3 linked regions of the Homo sapiens genome follow. Changing the gene in region 2 together with the main gene of any one other region gives a genetic interaction. Each region holds a gene or a part of one and is shown on either strand. Other genes may lie near its edges.

Region 1 (6,226 bases), on a different chromosome or scaffold from region 2:
GCTGTCTCTTCTTGTTCTTGTCTGTTTCTAGCTGCCCTGCTTTACCAAAGAACGAAGCTTGCTAGATTACACCCAAAGAACAAAAGACAATTTTACGTTTTGTTTCTTGGGGAACATTGATGCATCTGGGTTGCACAAATGGAACCTTGGTGATGGACCATGTAGAATCTATTTTAATTGCTTATGGTTCAGTTTTTATTACTTGAATACAAGTGATTTATAAATAAGATATTCTTTTCTGTTACTTTTATTTAATGCTAGTTTTCAAAGTTTTAGAATGTTTTTGGTTTCATATTTTATTCTTTTTCAAGATTGAGAGAACTGAATTATTTGCCCAAGATCTGAAGTCACAGTGAATACCAGATCTGCCTAGCCTTTCTCTTTCCAAAACCTTGTGTTCTTTGTACTCTTACAACTTTTCTATTCTCTGGTGGGACACAGATGGGAGACAGAATAGGAACATTGGTCTAGTAAAGGGCTTTGAGAACTAATAAGGTGATGAGGCATTAGAAAGTAAATGAGAAAGGTTCATACTTAAAGGTACTACTTGAATATAACAGTGCTCCTAATCTATACATTTTCTCATTAGGTTCCATGGATTAAAATATTTATGGATCATTGTTGATCTATATCTCACCTTTCTGTGTGACAGAATAATTAGTGGACTGTAGGAAATTAAGAGGCAAAGTGTGTAAAAGAGCTCCACCTGGTGGCTCTCTATAGTCATAATAAAAATTGATTCCCTGAGAAATAGGCAGTGAGTTTTAGGATATGGAAATTGGAGGTTGAACTGGTAAGACTTTAAATCTACTTTCTATAGAATTAATGGGGTTTTCATTTACCTCTTTTTCTCCATCCTTAATGAGACATGAAGCCTCATTTGCTTTTTTTAGAGGGACAGTTTGAAACTAGAATGTGTGCTAGATTTGGAAAGGAATAATCTTACAGAGAAAGGGTCAATGATATACCACTTTTGTGATGAGAAATTAATTAAGTACAGGTTTTAATGTTTGCCTTAAGAATTTTCCATCTCCCCAGTAACACAGACAGTATTTTTTTTTTTTAGCATATCAATATTTAACCTAATAGTTAAAATTATCTAATAGCCCTCTTCTTTTTCAGAATCCTACAAGGGACACTTTGGTCCTATTCACTGTGTGAGATTTAGTCCTGATGGAGAACTCTATGCCAGTGGTTCAGAAGATGGAACATTGAGACTATGGCAAACTGTGGTAGGAAAAACGTATGGCCTTTGGAAATGTGTGCTTCCTGGTAAGAATTTTTATTCAGAATAATAAAATTTTTAAAATGCATGATTTTATGTCATTTTTAATCATTAATTTTATTTCAGGGTTCCTGTTTTCTATAAATTTTAAATTATATATTATGGTTTAAGCAGCGAGAAGCCCAGGATTATAAATTGGCCAGAGAAAGGGTCATGTTCCTTTGTTTAAATTTTTTTTGGTATGGCTGGGCACGGTGGCTCACGCCTGTAATCCCAGCACTTTGGGAGGCTGAGGCGGGCGGATCACAGGGTCAGGAGTTCGAGACCAGCCTGGCCAACATGGTGAAACCCCATCTCTACTAAAAATACAAAAATTAGCCAGGTGTGGTGGTACATGCCTGTAATCCCAGCTACTCAGGAGGCTGAGGCACGAGAATTGCATGAACCCAGGAGCCATGCATTGAGCTGAGATCACGCCACTGCACTCCAGCCTGGGCAAGAGTGACTCAGTCTCAAAAAAAAAAAAAAGAAAAATTTGTTGTACAATCTAGTCTGTTCCTAAATTTTTATACTAGCACATTTTGTGGCTGGAATAGATCTAATTCAAAATTTGCTGGAAGGCAATATAAAGAATTTACAAGTAAATGTATCTAATCTCTGAATAGTATTACTCACTGATCCACACCAATAAAGATAGACATGTTCTTAATAAAAAATACCTAGTTACTAATCCCTAAGTAGTTGCAGTATGAACCTAAAAGTAATTTTAAAGAAAGACATACTATTTTTAGAATCACAGTTATTTAAAAAGGAGTTGTTTTTATTATATTTTGTAGCCATTTTCCTGGAATAGTCTTATGTTGCTCTTCTTGCTTATTGAACACTGGAAATTACTTTAATAGTGTAAGTCATATAATCGTCATTGCTTTTCTTTTTACAGAAGAAGATAGTGGTGAGCTGGCAAAGCCAAAGATTGGTTTTCCAGAGACAACAGAAGAGGAGCTAGGTAAATGCTATGGAATTGACTTTTGTAAGAGTCTTGGGGGATTTAAAATTGAACTGTAACAGAAGTTTTACTCATTGGCAGAAGAAATTTATTAAATATGAACATATTTAAATAATGGAAACTTTAAATATTTATGCATGTATATATACATATTTATAAGCTAAATATTTAAATACCTACTGCATAGTAGTAATAGGCACAGAGATGTAGTATGGACACAACCGATGTGGTTACTCTTTCAGAGCTAGAGTCTAACTTAGGAGACATGCCAAAACACAAATTATTGTAAGGGGGATTAAAAAAAGCTTCCTAGAGAAGTGACATTTAAACTGGGAACTAAGGATGAGCAGAAATGATTTAGGTGAGGTCATGAGAGGGGGTGTTGGTAGGGACAGGATGGAAAAGTTCATAGCAGGAAAACTATGTTAACTAAAAGTTCAGAACCAAAAAGGAGCATAGCATATGAGGAACTAAAAGAACTTCTCCATGCCTCCAGGTTAAAGAGCAAAGGCAAAGTGAAGCTGGAGAAGCTAGATCATCTGAGGGCCTCATTTGCTGTATTAGGACTTGGAGAGTTTTATACTAAGAGCAATGAGAAACCTTTGAATTTTAAGAAGAGGACTTTAAAAGATTGCCTTGGTAGTTCAAGACCAACCTGGCCAACATGGTGAAACCCTGTCTCTACTAAAAATACAAAAATTAGCCGGTCATGGTGGCAGATACCTGTAATCCCAGCTATTTAGGAGGCTGAAGCAGGAGAGTAGCTTGAACCCAGGAGGTAGAGGTTGCAGCGAGCCGAGATTGCGCCACTGCACTCCAGCTTGGGTGTCAGAGAGAGACTCTGTCTCAAAAAAAAAAAAAAAAAAAAGGTTGCCTTGGCTGTTGCACGTACAAAGAATTGGACTGGGAACAAGAGTGAACATAAACCAGTTAGGGGGCATTGTAGTCTAGATGAGTGATCATGTAGGTTTTGTTTTGTTTTGAGATGGAGTCTTGCTCTGTTGCCCAGGCTGGAGTGCAGTGGCATGATCTCGACTCACTGCAGCCTCCGCCTCTGGTTTCAAGCAATTCTCCTGCGTAAGCCTCCTGGGTAGTTGGGATTACAGGTGCACCACCACGCCTGGCTAATTTTTGTATTTTTAGTAGAGATGGGGTTTCACCATGTTGATCAGGCTGGTCTTGAACTCCTGACCTCATGATCTGCCCACCTCGGCCTCCCAAAGTGCTGGGATTACAGGCGTGAGCCACTGCACCCGGCCTATCATGTAGTTTTTAATAAGGGTATTGCAATGAGAACAGAAAAAGGTAGATGGAGTTGAGAGTCTTTTGTTAGACTTGTTAGAATTGTGAGATTGATGAGTGGGGGTATCATGAGGAAGAAATATGCAGATTGCTGCCATGAGAAACTGGGTATGATGATTTTGGGGGAGGTTGGGAAGGTGTTTACCATTTACCCAATAGAGTTTTCCTTAAATTTTTTATTGTTAAGCACCTTCTTGCTAAAACAATGTTGATGGTTAATGTTTTGCTTTAAATAGCACTAAATATTAGGATTTGAATCACTAAAAGAGAGGGCCAGATCCTTCGAAGACATGACTTTAATTCCGGGTTTGTTATATAGCTGGAGTCTTTGAAAATTTAGGCCAGAAAGGGACCCTTGGAGGTTGAGTTATGGTGTAAGAGAATCTAGTGGATAAAACACATGAACTCTTTCTTCTTTGCCTTTTCAATGACATGAGTCTAGTTGTTAGTGGCATGTGCAGTTGCTCTCTTCTTTCCCTTACCACAGTATGCTTTACAAACACTTTTTCATTCCTTCATTACACAGAAATGTAGATTTGCTTCTTTCTTTCATTAAGTTGACTAATGTGACTTTTTTTTTTTTTTTTTTTTTTTACTTATAGAAGAAATTGCTTCAGAGAATTCAGATTGCATCTTTCCTTCAGCTCCTGATGTTAAGGCCTGAGCGTCAATCATATGTGCAGTTAGTATACAACTGACTAAAACAAGCAAGCAGAGAAAAGCATCAGCCTTCCAGAGTTACTGTCTGCTTAAGGCAGAAACAGCAGTAAATAATGAGGAAAATGAATTAGCTCCAGTGCTGGAACAACTAACTAACTTGGTGTTACCTGTAAGTGAAAACTCAAGTGTCAGATGAAGGGAGGTGGAGTTATCCTCTTATAGTACAGTGGCCTGTTATCTTTTTAATGAATATATACAAGCCAACATCCAATTTCTATTATTACAATTAGGGTTCTTGTAGCTGTTTATGTTAATATGGAGAAGAAAACTATATTGGCTGATTTTTTCTGATCTTAAAGCAGAATGCCTTTTCTTTTTTTGCTTCAGTTGTAAAGAAGAGGGAATACATGATAAAGTAACTGGTTTGATTTCTCGTTCATTGTACACTGCCTCTGAACATCTAATTGTTTTTAGTTGTCTAAATAAAATGCCTCTAAAACAAAACAATGTTTGGTTTTTTTGGGGAAAAACTACTAATGTGAGTTTTATAAGTGGAAATAGCCAGAAGGTTTTTCTGTATCATAACCATAGCAAAAGGTAAGCCAATTAATCTGTAGTAAACATTATTTTATAATATTGAGATTCAGTTACTTGTCCTGAATTTTTGAAATTCTTATGTCCTTTACTAGTGTTTCATTTACCTTCTCTATTCCCAGATTGGATAGAAGTGCTTGACATGCCTTTTTAAACAATTATTTAAATAATACATGCTAGTTATAAGAAAAAAAAAATCAACTGAAATTTAGCAGTAAGCTGAAAGATCACTTAAAATCCTACCACTCCTCAAAAAACTATTAAAATCAAATGACCATGAATGCATGTTAGGGCATCTCTGTATGTATATACAGATAGATAGAATGGATTTTATAAAAATGGGATTACTATAGTCCTGCAGTGGTTTAAGAAGTATGGAATTTTACCTCATTCTTTAAATTTGGGTGGCATTCAGAAAGCCCTTCTAAAACCTTCTAATAAATTGGATCAGCTGAGTTTAGACTTGTAATTTATTTTTTAAAACAAAGAGGGCATATTAAATGAGTAATTTGGAAATACTTCAGATGAATAAATAACATCTCTGCAACTTCCTTTTTCTCCTGATCAGTCCTGTGAGTGACCCTTGATAACTTTTCTTAAAAGCAATATGAGTCAACCAAAGAATAAGATTAATTTTTGAGGATTTGTGATAACCAGAAGAAAGCACTGTAGGCTGTGACAACCTGTGAGGGCCGAGAGAAATACAGGGGAGCCAACTGGTGATCCATATTGGCTTTCATAGAGTGGTAGTATTTTTGTGTCAGCTTGTTACATGCCTGAACCTCTGGATTGCAGCAGTGTTGTCATTGTACCAGCAGTTGCTCAGACTCTAATCAGAGTCTGATTTACCCTCAATAAAGTTCTGTACGCATCAGATTGGAATCATGAAGTTGCTTGTTATTTATGAACCAAGGGAATTTCTCCTTAGGTTTCATAAAAGTCTAATGACCCTGTACAGGTACAGTCCTTTGTGTATTGGTTTCCTGCTGCTGCTGTAACAAGTGACCACAAATGTGTACCTTAAGACAACACAAATTTATTATCTTACGGTTAGGGAGGTCAGAAGTCCACAGTAGGTCTTGCTGGGCTTAAATTAAGGTGTCAGCAGAGCTGCAAGCCTTCTAGAGGCTCTACAGGACAATCTGTTCCCTTGCCTTTTCTAGCTTCTAGAAGCCAGCTGCATTCCCTGGCTCATGGTTCCTTCCTCTTTCTTTACGTCCAGCAGTGTCCGTTTTTTAATCTCTTATTCTGAATGTGACTCTATCTCCTGCTGCCTTCTTTTATTTATAAGGAGGTTTGTAATTATATCGGGCTCACCTGAATAATCCAGGATAATCTTTCCAATTCAAGATCTTCAATTTAATCACATCTGCAAAAGTCCCTTTTGCCATATAGGATGACATATTCACAGGTTCTGGGGATTGGGAAGTAGACATCTT
Region 2 (8,648 bases):
ACACATCAGTCATACACACCTGAATGCACTTATTTATTTTCCCTCTTTAGCCTTATCCTCTATTCTCCCATACACCCACACTCAAACATCTATTCTACTCTGTTCAATATTTACCATTTTATTCCCACTTTATTTATTTATTTAGAGATGGAGTCTCGCTCTGTCACCAGGTTGGAGTGCAGCGGCGTGATCTCTGCTCACTGCAACCTCTGCCTCCTGGGTTCAAGTGACCCTCCTGCCTCAGACTCCCAAGTAGCTGGTATTACAGGCTCCTGCCATCGTGCCTGGCTAATTTTTGTATTTTTAGTAGAGACAAGGTTTCACCATGTTGGCCAGGATGGTTTCGAACTTCTGACCTCAGGTGATCTACCCGCCTTGGCCTCCCAAAGTGCTAGGATTACAGGCATGAGCTACCGCACCTGGCCTATTCCTACTCTTTTATTATGGTAAAATGTACATAACAAAATTGACTATTTTAACCATTTTAAGTGTACAGTTCCATGGCACTGACTGCATTCACATTGTTGTACAACCAACTCCACCATCCATCTCCAGAGTTTTTTCATCTTCTTCACCTGAAACTCCATATCCAGTAAACAATAATTCTCCATTCCCTCTCCCTTTGGCCCTTGGCAACCACTATCTCCTTCCTGTCTCTAAGAATTTAACTATGCTAGGTACTTCTGTAAGTGGAATCACACAATTTTTGTTCCTCTGTGGCTGGTTTATTTCACTTAGCATAATATTCTCAAGGTTCATCCACAATGTATCATGTGTCAGCATTTCCTTCCTTTTAAAGCTAAATAATATTCCATTGTATGGGCCAGGAACAGCGGCTCATGCCTGTAATCCCAGCACTTTGGGAGGCCGAGGCGGGCAGATCACCTGAGGTCAGGAGTTCAAGACCACCCTGGCCAACATGGTGAAACCCCATCTCTACTAAAAATACAAAATTAGCTGGGTGTGGTGGCACATACCTGTAATCCCAGCTACGAGGGAGGATGAGGCAGGAGAATCACTTGAACCTGGGAGGTGGAGGTTGCAGTGAGCCAAGATCGCGCCACTGCACTCCAGCCAGGGCAATAAGAGCGAAACTCTGTCTCTAAATAAATAAATAAATAAAATTTAAAAATTCCATTGTGTGACTACAATACATCTTGTTTTTCCACCCATCCATTGATGGACACTTGAGTTACTTCTACCTTTTGACTGTTGTGAATAAGGCTGCTACGGACATGGGTGTGGAAATACTCGTAGTCCCTGCTTTCAATTCTTTTGGGTATATCCCCAGAAACAGAATGACCGGATCATATGGTAATTCTGCTCAGTTTTTTGAGGAACTGCCATACATACACCACAGCATTTTCCTCAGAGGCAGCACTACTTCACATCTTCACCAGCAATGTGCAAGGATTCTAATTTCTTCACATCCTTTCCAACATGTTATTTTCTGTTTTTTAAAAGCGAATAGCTGGCCAGGCGCGGTGGCTCACGCCTGTAATCCCAGCACTTTGGGATGCCAAGGTGGGAGGAATCAGCTGAGATCAGGAGTTTGAGACCAGCCTGACCAACATGGATAAATCCCGTCTCTACTAAAAATACAAAATTAGCCAGGCGTGGGTGGCACATGCCTGTAATCTCAGCTACTCAGGCGGTTGAGGCAGGAGAATTGCTTGAACCCGGGAGGCGGAGGTTGCAGTGAGCCAAGATGGCACCATTGCACTCCAGCCTGGGCAACAAGAGCGAAACTCCATCTCAAAAACAAAGAAAAAAAGATAATAGCCATCCTAATGGATGTGAAGTGGTTCAATGTATATCTTTTTATTTGTATAACTTCTTTCAAAATGTATATAATTATTTTGTGTATATGTAATTTGTTTTACATAGTAGCATTATGCTATTCCTTTCCCTCTGTGTCTTACTATTTTCTGTTGGAACTGTGTTTAAAATCTATACATTTGTTTTATGTACATGGAATTCATTGCTTCTCACTTTTGCATAGCACTTTATAGTATGCATGAATCACATCCATGTATATTGAGAACCTACTATGTGCTTGTACCAAGCTTTCTATATGATTTAATCTGATTCCATACAGCAATCCTAAGAAGGTGTTGTAATTATCACATTTTATGGATGAGAAAACTGACACACACAGAGTTAAGGAACGTGCCCAGAGTCACACAGCCGGAAGTGGAAGAGGTAGAAGTTTAACCCAGGTCATTCTGGTGCCACAGAAGAGCTCACACGTGTAAGGTGTTACAAAGAGCTATAGGTAGAGATCTGACTGTAGACAGAGGCTCTCTCTTAGGTGAGGGCACTCTGATAAAAGTTCTAGTCCTGATTTGGCTACTTATCTTCACAGTGCAAATCACCTTCCCTTACAGACATCACTTTCTGTCTGTGTAAGATGAAGATGATTTTAATGCTTTTTCTAGATTCACTACTTGTTGATTAAATACCCTTAAGCTAATGGGAAAATAATCAGAATTGAAGTCAGGTGTTTGTTTCTTTCGTGTATTTGGAGTGGCTGGCCTACCTGGGAGCCACTCCAAATACACGAAAACCCTCTGATGTGTCTATTCACGAGGTGAACTGTTCATAGGATGGACTATTCCCAGGGAAACAGTTGCTGTCTCCACTTCCATCCCACCTCTCCTGAACTTTGCACTTACCATGGTGAAAAATTAACTGGGCTAATGTTTCCCTCCCAAGGACAACCTCTGCAAAAGCAGGTATGGCTGGGCCCCAAAAGACCAGGTGCCAGAACAGAGTTGTACCCATCCAGAGCAGCCCACCCATTCACTGCCCAAAGTCAAGATCAAGAGAACATGCAGGGTCTTCTCAGCACTGGAAGAATCAGTTCCTCAGCCCTCCTCAGAGCTTTCTGAAACTGGACTTAGTCCCCCAGTGGAGGGACTTCTCTTGGAGAAACAGGCCTGAGGAGAAAGAACTAGCCCAGAAATGGCACTTATTAGACTTGTAGGTGGGTCCAGCACTATTTTTCTGCATGCACAGCTGTTCTTGTCACACGGATGCCAGCAGGGAAGCATGGTTCTGCCACACTAACTAGCTGGCTGCCTAGTTATTTCCTCCCCTCAGGAAAATGAGAGGGCTGAATGAGGGCCCCTTCCCATACCATGATTTTACAGGGTGAAGTACCTGTCAGGTCCTTCTACTACATGTAATCCTCAAATCTCTCTGACGCTCTTCCTCTACAGTGCAAATCACTCTCCTTCAGCAGACATTGCTCTCTCTGTAACATAAAGGACTTGAACTACAGGAGGACAGTTACAATGCTCTTTCTGGATCCACCACTCTGCACAGTGAGAACCGCTTGCTCCATTCTTACAGCGGAGAGAACGGACGCTGCCCAAGGGGAAGAAGAGAAAGAGCCGGGATTGGAAGCCAGGCCAGTCACTGATGGATCCTGAGCCCCTCTTACTTTCTTTGGCTACCTCTCAATGGTTGGACTTGTTCAGGTTAAGATTAACACTTTACTGGACGATGATGACTGCAAGGCCCCTGCCCATCTTTGCCCACTCAGTCACATCATCCTCATCCCCACCCTTTGATGCTTCTCTAGGCTGTGAACGCCTTGAAAACCTTAGTCTTTTATTTTGGAAGTTCAGGAACTGAATAGGAGGGCTGCAACTCAGAGCTGCTCCGTCAATGTGTGTTAAACTTATTTGACCTCCCTCCACCACTTTTCATGGCATTAGCAATGCAAACCTTTTCACATGAGCTTCCCACAGCCACCCTAGGAGATCGCGAGGGAAGCTACCTCTAGCCCCATTTTACAGGTGAGCAAATAATCCTTGCAGTGTTACAACAGTGTGCCCGTGTAGAGAACTGTTTTGCAAAGAGCTCGATCAATGATGTCATCTTTGCCTTCCGTGACCCAGGCAGCTGGGTGCAGTCTCAAGATCGGAGACTGAGGCTTCAACAAAGTATTGGGTTCAAATTCCAGCTCTGCCACTTGGAACCCTGAGTAAGTAATGTAATCTCTCTGTGCCTCCGTAAACGTGAGGCACAGGAACATCTACCTCACCAACCACTGTTAAGACTGAATCAAAGGGCAGCAGGCGGACTACCCGGAATGAAGAAAGCAATCAATAAATGTGGATTGTGTCATCCTTGTCTCTCTTGACGGACGGGAAGAGGAGAGTGAAACCTAAGACCACAGCGGCAGCGCGTTAACAGGAGGACCAGCAAGGAACGGAAGCCAGGTTGTCAAGCCTCAGTTGGCTTTCACGTATTCTCCTTTTCAGGCGGGTATTTAGGAAGAGAGGAGGGTGAGGAGCACAGCGCACTTCTGCAGCAGCAGCTGCGGATTGGCTTGTGGGAGGCGGTTCTCCGGAGCAAGGCAAGGGCCCCTGCCGCTTCTGGGCTGACTGTGGATTCCGCCACACCTCACAGGGCTTTGTAACTCCCCACCCACTTGAGGGTTCCAGATAACTTTTTTTTTTTAACAAAGCAGGGGTGGGGGTGGGAGATTCCTGCTGTTAAAAACAAACAAAGGGCTTAGACACCGGCTAGTCGGCTGCGGGAGGCAGCAAGAGAAAGGCCGAGGGGCCTGGAGTAGCTCCTGAAAACCGCCGAGGGCCCTGCGGGCAGACGCCCCTGAATTCTTTTGGTGGGGAGAAAAGCCGCGGAGCTCCCCAATGTGCCAATTGGTTTGTTGTTGTTTTGCTTTTTTTGAATACACAAACTCTCCGAAAACTCCTGTCTTGCCCCACTTTTTTGTGAGTTCATTGCTTTGGAAACAAAACTCTCTTCCATTTATTGGCAATTATCAAATTTCCGATCCTTCTCTATCAGGAGATCCAGCAACAAACACCCTGTTATGTAAATTTCTTTCAAAGATAAATTCGAAAGCCCCTCCATTCATTCCTTCAAGAACTCAACAGATGTCCTTGAGGCTCATTTTCTGCCGGGCACTCGGTTCACAAGGCTCAAGAGACCCCTGGCTCCAGCCATTGTCCAGGTTGTCACTGGTGTCCCCAGCTCTCCACTTCTGAGGACCCACTTCTCACCCCCTCCTCCTCCGCACACGTTCCCGAGGCTCTCGGCCGGTGTGATCTCACCGACTAGAGAATAAAAACAGCCCAGGGGCGCCGGCGCCGGCCAAGGGCCTTGACGGGGATCAGCAAGCGCGAGGCCAAGTGCGGGCCCCAACTTCCTGGGCCCGGGCCTTCCGCGCGCCCCCTCTCGGGCTCGGGTCCTCTCCAGGGTGCACTCGCGTCCGGACGACGCTTACTTGCTGCGAGTCCAACCCTCTCCGGCCCGCAACTCCAACCGAGCCGCCCGAGTGTGGACTCCGAGAGCGGACGCCACGGGCCGCGCTCAGCCCTCCCGCCCGAGGCCCCTCTCGCCGTGTTTCCCAGGACTTCCTCCCCGCGCCCGCCCGACTTCAGGTCGGGGCCGCGCAGGGTCCCGCGCGCTCCAGCCAGGACTGCCGCCGCCCGGGTCGCCCACGTGGGCGTGCTGGGCGCGGGGTGGTGGCCGGCCGGGCGCCCTCCCCGGAGCAGGGGGCGGGCAGGGCGCCCGCGGGAGGAGGTGGCGGGGCGCGGGGGAGGAGGCGGGGAGCCCCGGCGGCGAGGGGGCGGTGACAGCACTTGGAAAGGAGGCTGCACGCGGATTTGCATGAAACACAGACTGGGAGCGGGCGGGAGCGGGAGCGCGGCGCACGCCCCGGGCCGGCCCAGCCAGCGAGCGAGCGAGCGGCGAGCCGGGAGGAGGAGGGTGGCGGGGCGGTGAGGCCGCAGAGGCGGAGGGATCTGCGCATCAAAGCTAGCGAGGCGAGCGAAGTTTGGCCGGGGGTTGGACTTTCCTTCCCGGAGGCGGCACCCAAACAGCTACCCCGTGCGGAAACCCAAACTTCTGCTGCCACTTGGAGTCTCGCGGCCGCCGCCTCCGCCCCGCGTTCGGGGCCTTCCCGACCCTGCACTGCTGCCGTCCGCCCGCCCGGCCGCTCTTCTCTTCGCCGTGGGAGCCGCTCCGGGCGCAGGGCCGCGCGCCGAGCCCCGCAGGCTGCAGCGCCGCGGCCCGGCCCGGCGCCCCGGCAACTTCGCCGAGAGTTGAGGCGAAGTTTGGGCGACCGCGGCAGGCCCCGGCCGAGCTCCCCTCTGCGCCCCCGGCGTCCCGTCGAGCCCAGCCCCGCCGGGGGCGCTCCTCGCCGCCCGCGCGCCCTCCCCAGCCATGTCGTCCATCCTGCCTTTCACTCCCCCGATCGTGAAGCGCCTGCTGGGCTGGAAGAAGGGCGAGCAGAACGGGCAGGAGGAGAAATGGTGCGAGAAGGCGGTCAAGAGCCTGGTCAAGAAACTCAAGAAGACGGGGCAGCTGGACGAGCTGGAGAAGGCCATCACCACGCAGAACGTCAACACCAAGTGCATCACCATCCCCAGGTGGGGGCCCGCCCGGGGGGGACCCGGGGTCACGCCGGCCCAGCCCCCTGGCACTGCGGGGCCGACCCAGTGGGGCTGGAGATGGGAAGAGGGAGAGAGAGGGAGGGAGTGAGACTGTGTGGGTGCGTGTGTGTGAGAGTGGGAGAGCGCGGGCAGGAAGGGGGTGGGGGGACCCCAAACAAAACCATCTCTGATTTGCAAAGATCAGAGCCCGAGGCTTCCACGCGGCACTCTGGCTTCCACACCTCACATTCCCTTTCCACCTCCGGGAGGGGAGAGCGGGTTGCTGCGGGACTCGGCCGCCCCCACTCCGGGGAGCTGGGGCTGGAAGTTGAGGCCCGCTTTGTTCGGCTCCGCGGGCCGGAGCCCCTCCTCCGCCGCCGCCTCCCGCCCCCGCGGCCCGCGCTCGTGGAGGTGGTGGTGTCTTTGCGTTTCTTTTCTTCAGTCGGGTCTCCCCACTTTCCTCTACAGGAATGCGGTCCGTACAGCTGGGGCTGTGGGTGAGGAGCGGGAGCCTAGTGATTGACAGATTCCTTCTTCGTTCTTTCTTTGCCTTCGGGATTAGCATTTTTATCGAGTATTTTTAGACTCGGTTGTGCCAGTCTCCCGCCCCCTGAGCATGCACGCACTTTGGTTGCAGTGCAATGCTCTGACTTCCAAATGGGAGAGACAAGTGGCGGAAAATAGGGTCTTCTCCCACCTCCCACCCCCCCATCCCGACTCTTTTGCCCTTCTTTTGGTCCAAGAGATTTTGAAACCGTGCAGAACGAGGGAGAGGGGCAGGCTGCAGCCGGGCAGATAACAAAACACACCCCAAAGTGGGCCTCGCATCGGCCCTCGCATTCCTGTAGAGCCTTCCTTCCCAAAGCGCGCTGCCATCTGTCTGGATCTCCTTTATCCTTCCCGTTGCGCGCTAGCTAGGTCGGGCGGGAGCCCACAGATGGCTGATAGAAGGGGTCAGTGACTTCACTCCCCCAGGGCCTTCCTTAGCTTAGATGTGCCTGGCTGGGAACTGGGGGTGCGGGTACCTTGGCTTCCTGTCTCTACCTCTCAGCCTCCTTTGATGCTGAACCAAGGGAGAGAGCGTGTGTGTTGGGGGCTGGCTCTTTTGGGGGTCCCAGGCTGCCGAGGAATGAGTAGAAAGCACCAGGGACTGTCAGCCGCAAAGGGATTGTCATCCCTGCTCCTGGGCCAGGGTGGACTCCATCCTTGGCCACCTGCTTGGGGCAGTTGTACAGGGGCTGCCAGGCGAGTCAGGCAGGCACAAAGCAACATCTGTCCACGGGAACCGAGGGCAGGCCTCCCCTGGAAATAAATGCCACATATGGTGGGAGTGCGGACTTAAATTTTTTTTAACTGGGTGGATCCAGTCAATAAAGGGGGAGGGAAGGCGGTGTGCTGTCTGGGGAAGTCTCTGGGCGTGTGATCGGGAGCCAGAATTGACTTCAGAGGAGGTGGTGTGATGTGATGGTCAGAGAGACCTGGGATTTGGTTCCAGCTCTGGTTGTTAATTCTTCTGTATTCCTTCCGTGGGGGTGGCTAGGGTAGAGTGGGTGAGTATGCTACTTCTCTTTCTGGGGAGGGGTCTGCCAAACCTACCTTCTCCTTATCTGCCTGGGTGCATTGAAGACAAGTGCTTTATGTATTGAAACAGAAGAAAAAAAGTGGTATCAATTGTAAAACAGGCAGCTGTGAAAAGTGTTTCACAGTTTACAAAGCACTTTCACATGGTTTTCTGAGGTCCTCAAAAAAAGACAGAAAGCAAGCAAGCAACCAGCCATGGAAAGTAGATAAGGTTGTTAGGCTTAAGATTATCACATTTTTAAAGCAGAGGAAACCTTAAAAGAGAGAGGTGAAAAGGCTTGAGTCATAGACATGGGGTTCTGCCTGAATGTGCTCTTTCTGCTGCCCCATGCTGCTTTATACTTTGAAGATCCTGAATACATTCTTTGCTGAATGCTAAAGCTGTGTTAGCTTGGGGAGGGCCCTGTGGATCTTTGTATGTGCGGTTGCTTCTTTAATCTTTGGGCTGGTGATAGCTTGGCAGAGAGGCCTTGCTTTCCCTTGCCTTGGTAGGAGTTTGTCCTCTGTGGGGCCATACCTTTGGCCTGCCTTTTCCTCTTCCAAAGTCCTGCTGAGACTTTGGAAGCCTAAGACGTGTGAACGCTTTGGATGATTCTGAGAGTTCAAGCCAACCTGCCCTGTGGCCTTCTCGTGACTTTGTTAGGACTGAGGCATCTT
Region 3 (8,634 bases), on a different chromosome or scaffold from region 2:
TCTACAAATACGTAATGAAAAATAAAAGCAACTTTAATACAAGTTAACTATAATAAAATTTTAAAAGAGGGGCCTGTAAATATCTATATTGAATGCTGAAGATGGAAGGCTCAATTTGGAATGTGCAATTGGAAATAACCCTTAAATTGGAAGGGCTTTTCTTCAGATAAGCTTAAAAAAGAGCTCTAAGAAATGGAAGCATCTAAGTAGTGAGGGTAGTTAACTAGTCTGATTTAAACAACTGTAAGAACTTTAAACAAGTTCTGTAAACACATTTACAGTACTGAGCTGGATTTTATTTTAAAGGTGTCAGAAGACCCTCCTCCATTTAGATAGGTAATTTTAGAATTTATAATTATTTTAGAAAAAATAGGAGCGGGCATGGTGGCTCACACCTGTAATCCCAGCTCTTTCGGAGGCTGAGGCAGGCGGATCACCTGAAGTCGGGAGTTTGAGACCAGCCTGACCAACGTGGAGAAACCCTGTCTCTATGAAAAATACCAAAAAAATCAGCCGGGCGTGGTGGTGCATGCCTGTAATCCCAGCTACTCGGGAGGCTGAGGCAGGAGAATCTCTTGCACCCAGGAGGCAGAGGTTGCCGTGAGCTGAGATGGTGCCATGCCATTGCACTCCAGCCTGGGCGACAAAGCGAGACTCTGTCTCAAAAAAAAAAAAAAGAAAGAAAAAGAAAAAATATATGAGGTTAATTTAGAAAGTTTTTTGAGTTCTCAAGAATTTGCGTTAGGGCATATATATCAGAAAGTTTGCTATAAGTTTAAAAATCATGTACTATCACATACATTTATCTCAAAAATAATAAAAGAACTATAACTTGAATGTTACATATAAATACCTTTGACTCAAAGCGACAGATAACACGTTAGGGCTTCTTGGATGAGATTTTTCTGTCTGTTCTATGACTCCTTTTCCTGCTCTGTTTGGTGAGGCTGTCCGACTTTGAGTATCTCTATATGGTGATGATGTGGCACTAGTAGTTTCTTTATGTATGTGGGTAGGAGATGGAGATGCAATCAATATTTTAATGTCTTCCATACGGTCTTTTGTCACTGTTTTTAATTCATCAGTGGTGGCAGTGGTAGTGGTGGCATTAGCAGTAGGTTCTTGTATTTGAGTCTGCTGGAATACTGTAACTGTGCTTTGAGGACTTGCGCTTTCAGGGCTTGCGGAACTGCTTTCTAATGGTGACAACTGATCGAAGGAACGTAACTGGAAGTCATCATCCATTGGGATATAGGGAGCTAACATCTCCAAGTCTAAATCTGTGTCCTTTAAAACAGCAAATACATGAGTTTTTACAATGGCCACACCTTATAAATAAAAAACAAGTGAAACTCAAAGTCACTTCAGACTAAAAATTAATGAAATTTAATATAAAACAAATAAGTTCATATACCTGAGTAGAAAATGGGTTCTTTGCTTCTGTGTCTTCAGCAAAAAGTTTTTCTACCAATTCCAACTTGAATTCATTGACCATATCACTATCCACATAAAAACAATATTCACTGGGACTATTAGGCTGTAAAAAGAAATATGTTTACTATTTCCTGAAGAAGCTTCCATATACTTTGCTAGTTGTCAGAATTTTCAAACTAGATCTCAGAAAAACCAGAAAACACACAACCAAGTCCATCGTGTTTATCAAATTTTATTTAACTAGGCCGGGCTCAGTGGCTCACGCCTGTAATCCCAGCACTTTGGGAAGCCAAGGTGGAGGGATAATGAGGTCAAGAGATCGAGACCATCCTGGCCAACATGGTGAAACCTCGTCTCTACTAAAAATACAAAAATTAGCTAGGCATGGTGGCAAACGCCTGTAATCCCAGCTACTCAGGAGGCTGAGGCAGGAGAATCACTTGAACCTGGGAGGCAGAGGTTGCAGTGAGCCAAGATCATGCCACTGCACTCCAGCCTGGCGACAGAGTGAGACTCCATGTCAAAAAAAAAAAAAAAAAAAAAAATTTGTGAAAATAGTGACATTTTGAAGCTTATACTGGTAACTAATTTTGCCAATATATATATTTCTGACTATGTAATATAACATCATTTACAAAATTGAGATGAAAAGAAACACCTTATTCTAAAGAATAAAACCTATTTGGTAATTCACATCCCACAATGGTACCTAATTGACCAATTAACTAGATGCTACATTCACTGGAATTTACCTTTGAACTGAGAAGGCACACTCCTGTGGTGACTGAGCTACCTAAAAATCTCACTGTTACTGTCGGGGGTGGGAGTAGAAACCTAAGTTATTTTACCTGCATATACCTGAACGAATGTACATTATTACTATTTTAAGAGTTCTGGGCAAGAAGTTTAACAAAAAACTATAGCTGTGTATTCTAAACAAGAAATTTTGCTTTCCTCATTCTAACGTTTTTGTTAGATTTACTTTTGTTAGATAAAAACCAAGATGAATCAAACATTTTTTTTTCTGGGTAAATTAAGCAACCAGAGCATAGGATATATATTCATTCAACACAAGGCTGTGAGATGTCAAATCCCCTACTCTTAGCTTGTCAGTTTTATTCAACAAATACCTAATGTAGAATTATTTACCACTTATTAAAGCTTATTTATGCCTCATTTATCAAGTTATAATGTTCAGATCTAAGTTGCCCTACTCCTGAGCATATTTTTAGATGTAGGAAGCCCTAAAATGGAATCATTCTAGATTTAGAAATAGAGCCCTGTGTGATATCTCTAAGTCTTGGCCAGCCTAGCCTTTAAAGATTATTTTTGTGTTCATAGGACAATTAATATCAAGACAGATCCAGAATAAAAAAGACCAGTTACTAAGTATTTATTTTATGTAACACTTGTTATTTTCATATTATACTTACCCAAAATTTCAAAATAGTGATGGAAATTAGACTAAATTGGGCAAAGAATTTATAAGGTCCTTTCCCATTTAAACCCTCGTAAGTCTATTGCTACCAGACAGTTCTCCAACTCAAAGGGGTAATGGGCCAGGCATGGTAGCTCACGCCTGTAATCCTAGTACTTTGGGAGGCCAAGGCAGGAGGATCGCTTGAGCCCAGGAGTTTAAAACCAGCCTGAGCAACATAGTGAGAACCCCAACTCCACACACACACACAAAAAAAGGTTAAAAAATTAGCCAGGCATGGTGATGCAGGCCTGTAGTCCCAGCTACTTGGGAGGCTGAGGTGGGAGAATCATTTGAGCCTGGGAGGTTGAGGCTGTGATTGCACCACTGCACTCCAGCCTGGGTGATAGTGAGACTCTTTCTCAAAACAAAACAAAACACAATAAAACAAACTAAAAGGGGTAACAGGTATAGGCTGTAGCTACCTTGAGCACACTTAGTACTATTCTCTTTAAATGTCCAAATTCAAGATGTTTTTGTCCTACTGATATAAATAATAGAGAAACAATGTACGTTTCACCTTTTGGTTTATATTAAGCTAGTTTCTTCCCATGTTCCTGACTATCTTTGAGCCTAAAACATGTGCTCAGGTCTAGGTTAGGCAGTAGCTCTTGCAATAATTTTAAAGTGCTAAAATTCAAACACACACACAAATGTAATTTGTGGTTCAAATAAGTGTTTGAATCAAACTTATAAATACATTCTTGAATGTTAAAATCTGAAAGTTGTCCCTTTCTGATTATATCATGACACCTACCTCAGGTGAACTTTGTCTAGTGCTTCCATCGGAAGGACTAGGTGTCTGATCCTGAATCTGGGGCATGGTAAAAGAAAGTTCCAGTGACTCTGGATTTGGTTCTAATTTTAATGCAACTTCTTGATTGAGTGCAGGGTCAGCACTACTTCGAAGTGGCTTTGGCGTTTCAGCGGTGGGTAATGGAGACATTGCCAAATTTATATTCTGTAATTTTTCGTTGGGTGAGGGGAGCATTACATCATTATATAATGGTACTTCCTCAAGTTGCTGGTCATCAGTTTCTGTGTCTGTGGGGAAAAAATATGAGTCAATCTAAAGTATAGAAGGATTTTTTTTTTTTTTTACCCAAGACAGAGTCTTGCTCTGTTGCCCAGGCTGGAGTGCAATGGCGCAATCTTGGCTCACTGCAACCTCTGCCTCCCAGGTTCAAGCAATTCCCCTGCCTCAGCCTCCCAAGTAGCTGGGATTACAGGCGCACACCACCACGCCCAGCTAACTTTTGTATTTTTGGTAGAGACGGGGTTTCACCATGGTGGCCAGGCTGGTCTCGAACTCCTAACCTCAAGTGATCCACCCGCCTCGGCCTCCCAAAGTGCTGGGATTACAGGCGTGAGCCACTGCGCCCGGCCACAAGGATTTTCACATATAAAAAATTTATGTTCTTTTTCACAAAAGGTTTGTCTAATTCATCAAACAACAAAATGTCACCAAATTTTCCTTCATCAGAAAGTTTACATACAATAGTATAGTATAACCATAAGTCTGAGTTACCTTTACAATCCACTATTGATACCGCGTCTTAATCTCTATGGCATAAAAGACAAAAGGCAATACCAACCTTTTTATACATTAAAATGTTCTCTACTTTAAAATTGCAGTTTTCATCTTCAATGCTTGATGTTATAGTATGACTACTTTTTTATCCTTTAATGCAACAATGCCTACTTCCATATAACTCTGCTAAACTGTGGAGAAAATCTGACAGCAGGATACAGAAATAGAGTAGCCAGGAAAAATTTATGTGGGAAGAAGAAATACCTTAAGGACACTTTGAAGCACAATTTCCAACAGTATAAAAAAGCAAGAATGGTAAGAAATTACGGGGGCAAAAATATTTAAGCAAATACATTTAAGAAAACTATAAACATATATTAGCTTGTAATGTCCAAATGATTACCAACAAAAACCGTAAAGTAATGTTTAGTTGAAATGGGGCTTGTAGCAACAGACACAATTTAGGGGATTAACAAAAATAACTACTCACCGTTGCTGCCAAAATCTAAAGATATGATTGTGTCTCCAGCGGCTGGGGCCAGCAAAGTTAAAGCATCAGGTTCCTTCTTAAGTTTGTCAAAGAGGCTACTTGTATCTTCTGATTCAACTTTGGTGAATAGCTGAGTCATTTTCATATCTGAAGATTCAACCGGTTTAAGGACACATTCTGTTTGTTGAAGGGAGAAAATCAAGTCGTGCTGAATAATACCACTGTCAAAACAAGAGAAATTGGTAATTCACAAATGAGCACTTGATACAGTGAGGGGAAGGGAGACTGTGAAATGGTCTCTTAAAAAATTCTGCTTTATGGACAGGAACATTTCAAGATTTCTTGAGATGCATGATCACTCATGCGTACTGTGTCACATTTAGGGTTTTAAAATGCTAATACAAAATAAAGACCCAATAAAATCCACAGTATGCAACCATAAAAAAGAATGAAATAATGTCCTTTGCAGCAACATGGATGCATCCAGAGACCATTATCCTAAGTGAGATAACCCAGGAACAGAAAACCAAATGCTGCATGTTCTCACTTGTAAGTGGGAGCTAAACACTGGGTTACTTGTGGACATAAAGATGGCATCAATAGACACTGAGGACTACTAGGGGAGAGGGGCAAGGGTTGAACAACTGTTGGGTATTATGCTCACTACCTGGGTGACAGGATCAATTGTACCCCAAACCTCAGCATCACATGATATACCCATGTAACAAACCTATGCATGTATCCCCTGAATCAAAAATAAAAGTTGAAATTAAAAAAAAAATCCCCAGTACAAGATAATTTGACTAATTTCAGTTAAGAATTTCAGATATCCAGGCTGGGCGTGGTGGCTCATGCCTGTAATCCCAGGACTTTGGGAGGCTGAGGCGGGTGGATCGCTTGAGCCTGGGAGTTCAAGAGCCTGGCCAACATGGCAAAACCCTGTCTCTACTAAAAATACAAAAAATTAGCCCGGTGTGGTGGTGCACACCTGTAGTCCCAGCTACTTGGGAGGCTGAGGCATGAGAATCACTTGAGCTCGGGAAATGGAGTGAGCCAAGATCACGCCACTGCACTCCAGCCTGGGTGACAGTGAGACTCCATCTCAAAAAAAAAAAAGAAAAAAAGAATTTCAGATATCCTTTGAGAAGAGTAGTAATGGCAAGGCAATTTGTAGTCAAGTACATGAAAGACACCAACAAATCTTCAGAATTGTTGTGCTGACACACATTATGAAATTGGCACAAAAGAACTCTTTGGCATCAATATGTGAGGCATGATCTAAGGATAGTCCTAAAGATACACAGATAAATGATTAAGATCTTTCTAAGAGAGGGGCCATATTTTCTTTGGTGGTAAGAATATAAGGTGATACCACCTACAGGATACGGCTGAAGAGGGATGATGAGCAATAGTTTATCTTCACGTTTGGCTTAAATGTAAATTATTCCTTTAATTAACGTATTAAATGTTCACTATCTGAAATGAACTGATAATGCAAAGATTAAAATAGCCAACCCTTGACCTTAAGAAATTTATAACCCATTGTGAAAGTAGATATGTAAACAATTAAAATACACTGTGATAACTGCTAAAATAGAGAAGGCTTGCTTCACTGAGAAGCTAACAAGCTGATACTTGGGATCAAGTGGCATTTGCTAGGCAGACTGGGGTGTGAGGAAGAGAAAGACATTCCAAGTGGAAGATTCTTACATAATGGTAAAGTCACAAAAGAACTCTGTGGCACTAATATTAAAACATTAAAGGATGGTGTCAGAAGTAGCAAAAATAAAAACTGCCCAAAGTCTTCCTAAGAGGAGTGACCCTAGATTTTAAAGGGAAGGCTAAATCTCTAATGCGTGAGTATGATGGTAAACAAGGATGCTGTACACCTAGGCAAGTGTTTATCTTGGAAATGATAAAAAGATCGCTAAAATTCTAAGGAAAATAAGATGATGACATATCCACACTAGAAAGCTTAGCCTGGTAGTAATGGGCAAGATGGACTAGAATGTGGTAATAATGTGGACAGGTAGACTAGATGGGGCAGGAGTCTAGTAAAATAGATCAAATGAAAAATTAAATTTTGATGTACATAATATTCACAAGCCAAAGAGCTAAGTGAAGAGTTCATGAATATACAAGAGCCATGTATTACATCATATAGCTTATTAATCTCATAGAATTTCTTTTCTTTTTTAAATTATACTTTAAGTTCTAGGGTGCATGTGCACAACGTGCAGGTTTGTTACATATGTATACATGTGCCATGTTGGTGTGCTACATCCATTAACTCATCATTCACATTAAGTATATCTCCTAATGCTATCCCTCCCCCCTCCCTAATCTCATAGAATTTCATTTAATTTTCATTATAACCTTCTGAAGGATTATCTACATAGATGAAATTCAGAAAAATGAAGAGACTTCCCCAAGGTCAGGGAGCTAATGAGTGGTAGAGCTATGATACAAATCTAGGCCAGGATTCTTCCTACAAAAAGAACACAGCTGTCTTGAGATAGTATATGCCGATATCTGTATAATTAGACCAAACCAATCAATGGATCTGGTATTTTTTTCATGGTCTTTTTAAAAATAGGAGTGAAGGTATGGGGATAGACAACTACTGACAGTGTTTAGCAGCATCACTGTGGAATAGCTGGACTGGAAACCTAGGTCAGAGTATAGAAAATAATAATTTGGTAGCGATGTAAAAGAATTAAAATTTAGTTAATATTTATTATCTTATCTTCCTATAAATGAACAGAGTATCCAAAAAGAATTACTATTTGTTCCCCAAAAATGTTTATTTCTCAAACTTACTTACCTCACAACGTAATTCACACATACAATGCACTGTGGTTGAGAATTCTTGGTGTTATATATGACAGTTGCTTGAGTTTCAACCCAGACATATCCACCTCTTTTGGCAAGCATCCTGTACTGTCCTGTGGTGACTTGTCCTTTAGTAAACACTAGGGGGGAAAAGAAAAAGAATCATGCAGAGAAAATATTTTAACTTTGAATTTTCAATTAAATGAACAGATGCTGAATGTTCATCATTGTTTTGGAAAACAAATGTTTATTTAGTGGAATCAGTTGTAACTGCTTACATTCTGACAGTGCGTCCCAGAATAGCTGAAAATGTACCCATTTCCTTTTTCAAACCCCCTAAATAAAACTCCTTTGCTGCCAGTGAGCTAAGTGAAGAGTTCATGAATATACAATCTTCAGTAACTAAAATTCCTTTAATGACTTAGGTTGGTGTCAGATTAGAGAATAATCAATAGCCTTTTTCAAGAAAATGGTGCCACAATAACTTCCTTAAATTCTGACTATGGTTTCCAGAGAACCAAAGATGCTTTAAAAAGCTATATGTAGCATATTTAAATATAAATTGATACCACATTGTAAGTCTTTTGGCAATTTAAATTAAATACTGATTTGGGAGAAAGTACTAAATAAATGCTAATGATGGTATTATTTTGAGGATTGGGGTGTCCTGACTGCAGACTTGGATTTACTCTTGAGTTCAAGGCTGATCAGTCACACAAACTCAGTGATATTCAGGTATCCTCAAGCACAGTGGGAAGTCATGCATAGGTACAGATTAAACAGGTGAGATAGTCCAAAGTTTAACTTATCTTGGGGATCTTAACATTCATTTGAGTAAAATTCAGAATCAAATCTTATGTCAAAGGTACT

What was found.
Region 1: of SMAD3 (region 2) and STRAP, changing one suppresses a phenotype caused by changing the other (phenotypic suppression), as found in Homo sapiens cells (one study listed by BioGRID).
Region 3: of SMAD3 (region 2) and HIF1A, changing one enhances a phenotype caused by changing the other (phenotypic enhancement), as found in Homo sapiens cells (one study listed by BioGRID).

The regions. Positions count from the first base shown.
Region 1 is NC_000012.12:15,898,782-15,905,007, forward strand, and holds the end of STRAP (serine-threonine kinase receptor-associated protein), read left to right. Parts: intron 1-1,122; coding exon 1,123-1,272; intron 1,273-2,165; coding exon 2,166-2,231; intron 2,232-4,135; coding exon 4,136-4,197; 3' UTR 4,198-4,697; downstream 4,698-6,226. UniProt on the Homo sapiens protein: The SMN complex catalyzes the assembly of small nuclear ribonucleoproteins (snRNPs), the building blocks of the spliceosome, and thereby plays an important role in the splicing of cellular pre-mRNAs.
Region 2 is NC_000015.10:67,059,954-67,068,601, forward strand, and holds the start of SMAD3 (mothers against decapentaplegic homolog 3), read left to right. Parts: upstream 1-5,648; 5' UTR 5,649-6,201; coding exon 6,202-6,407; intron 6,408-8,648. UniProt on the Homo sapiens protein: Receptor-regulated SMAD (R-SMAD) that is an intracellular signal transducer and transcriptional modulator activated by TGF-beta (transforming growth factor) and activin type 1 receptor kinases.
Region 3 is NC_000014.9:61,733,408-61,742,041, reverse strand, and holds part of HIF1A (hypoxia-inducible factor 1-alpha), read right to left. Parts: intron 7,905-8,634; coding exon 7,757-7,904; intron 5,154-7,756; coding exon 4,933-5,153; intron 3,956-4,932; coding exon 3,669-3,955; intron 1,538-3,668; coding exon 1,415-1,537; intron 1,288-1,414; coding exon 854-1,287; intron 1-853.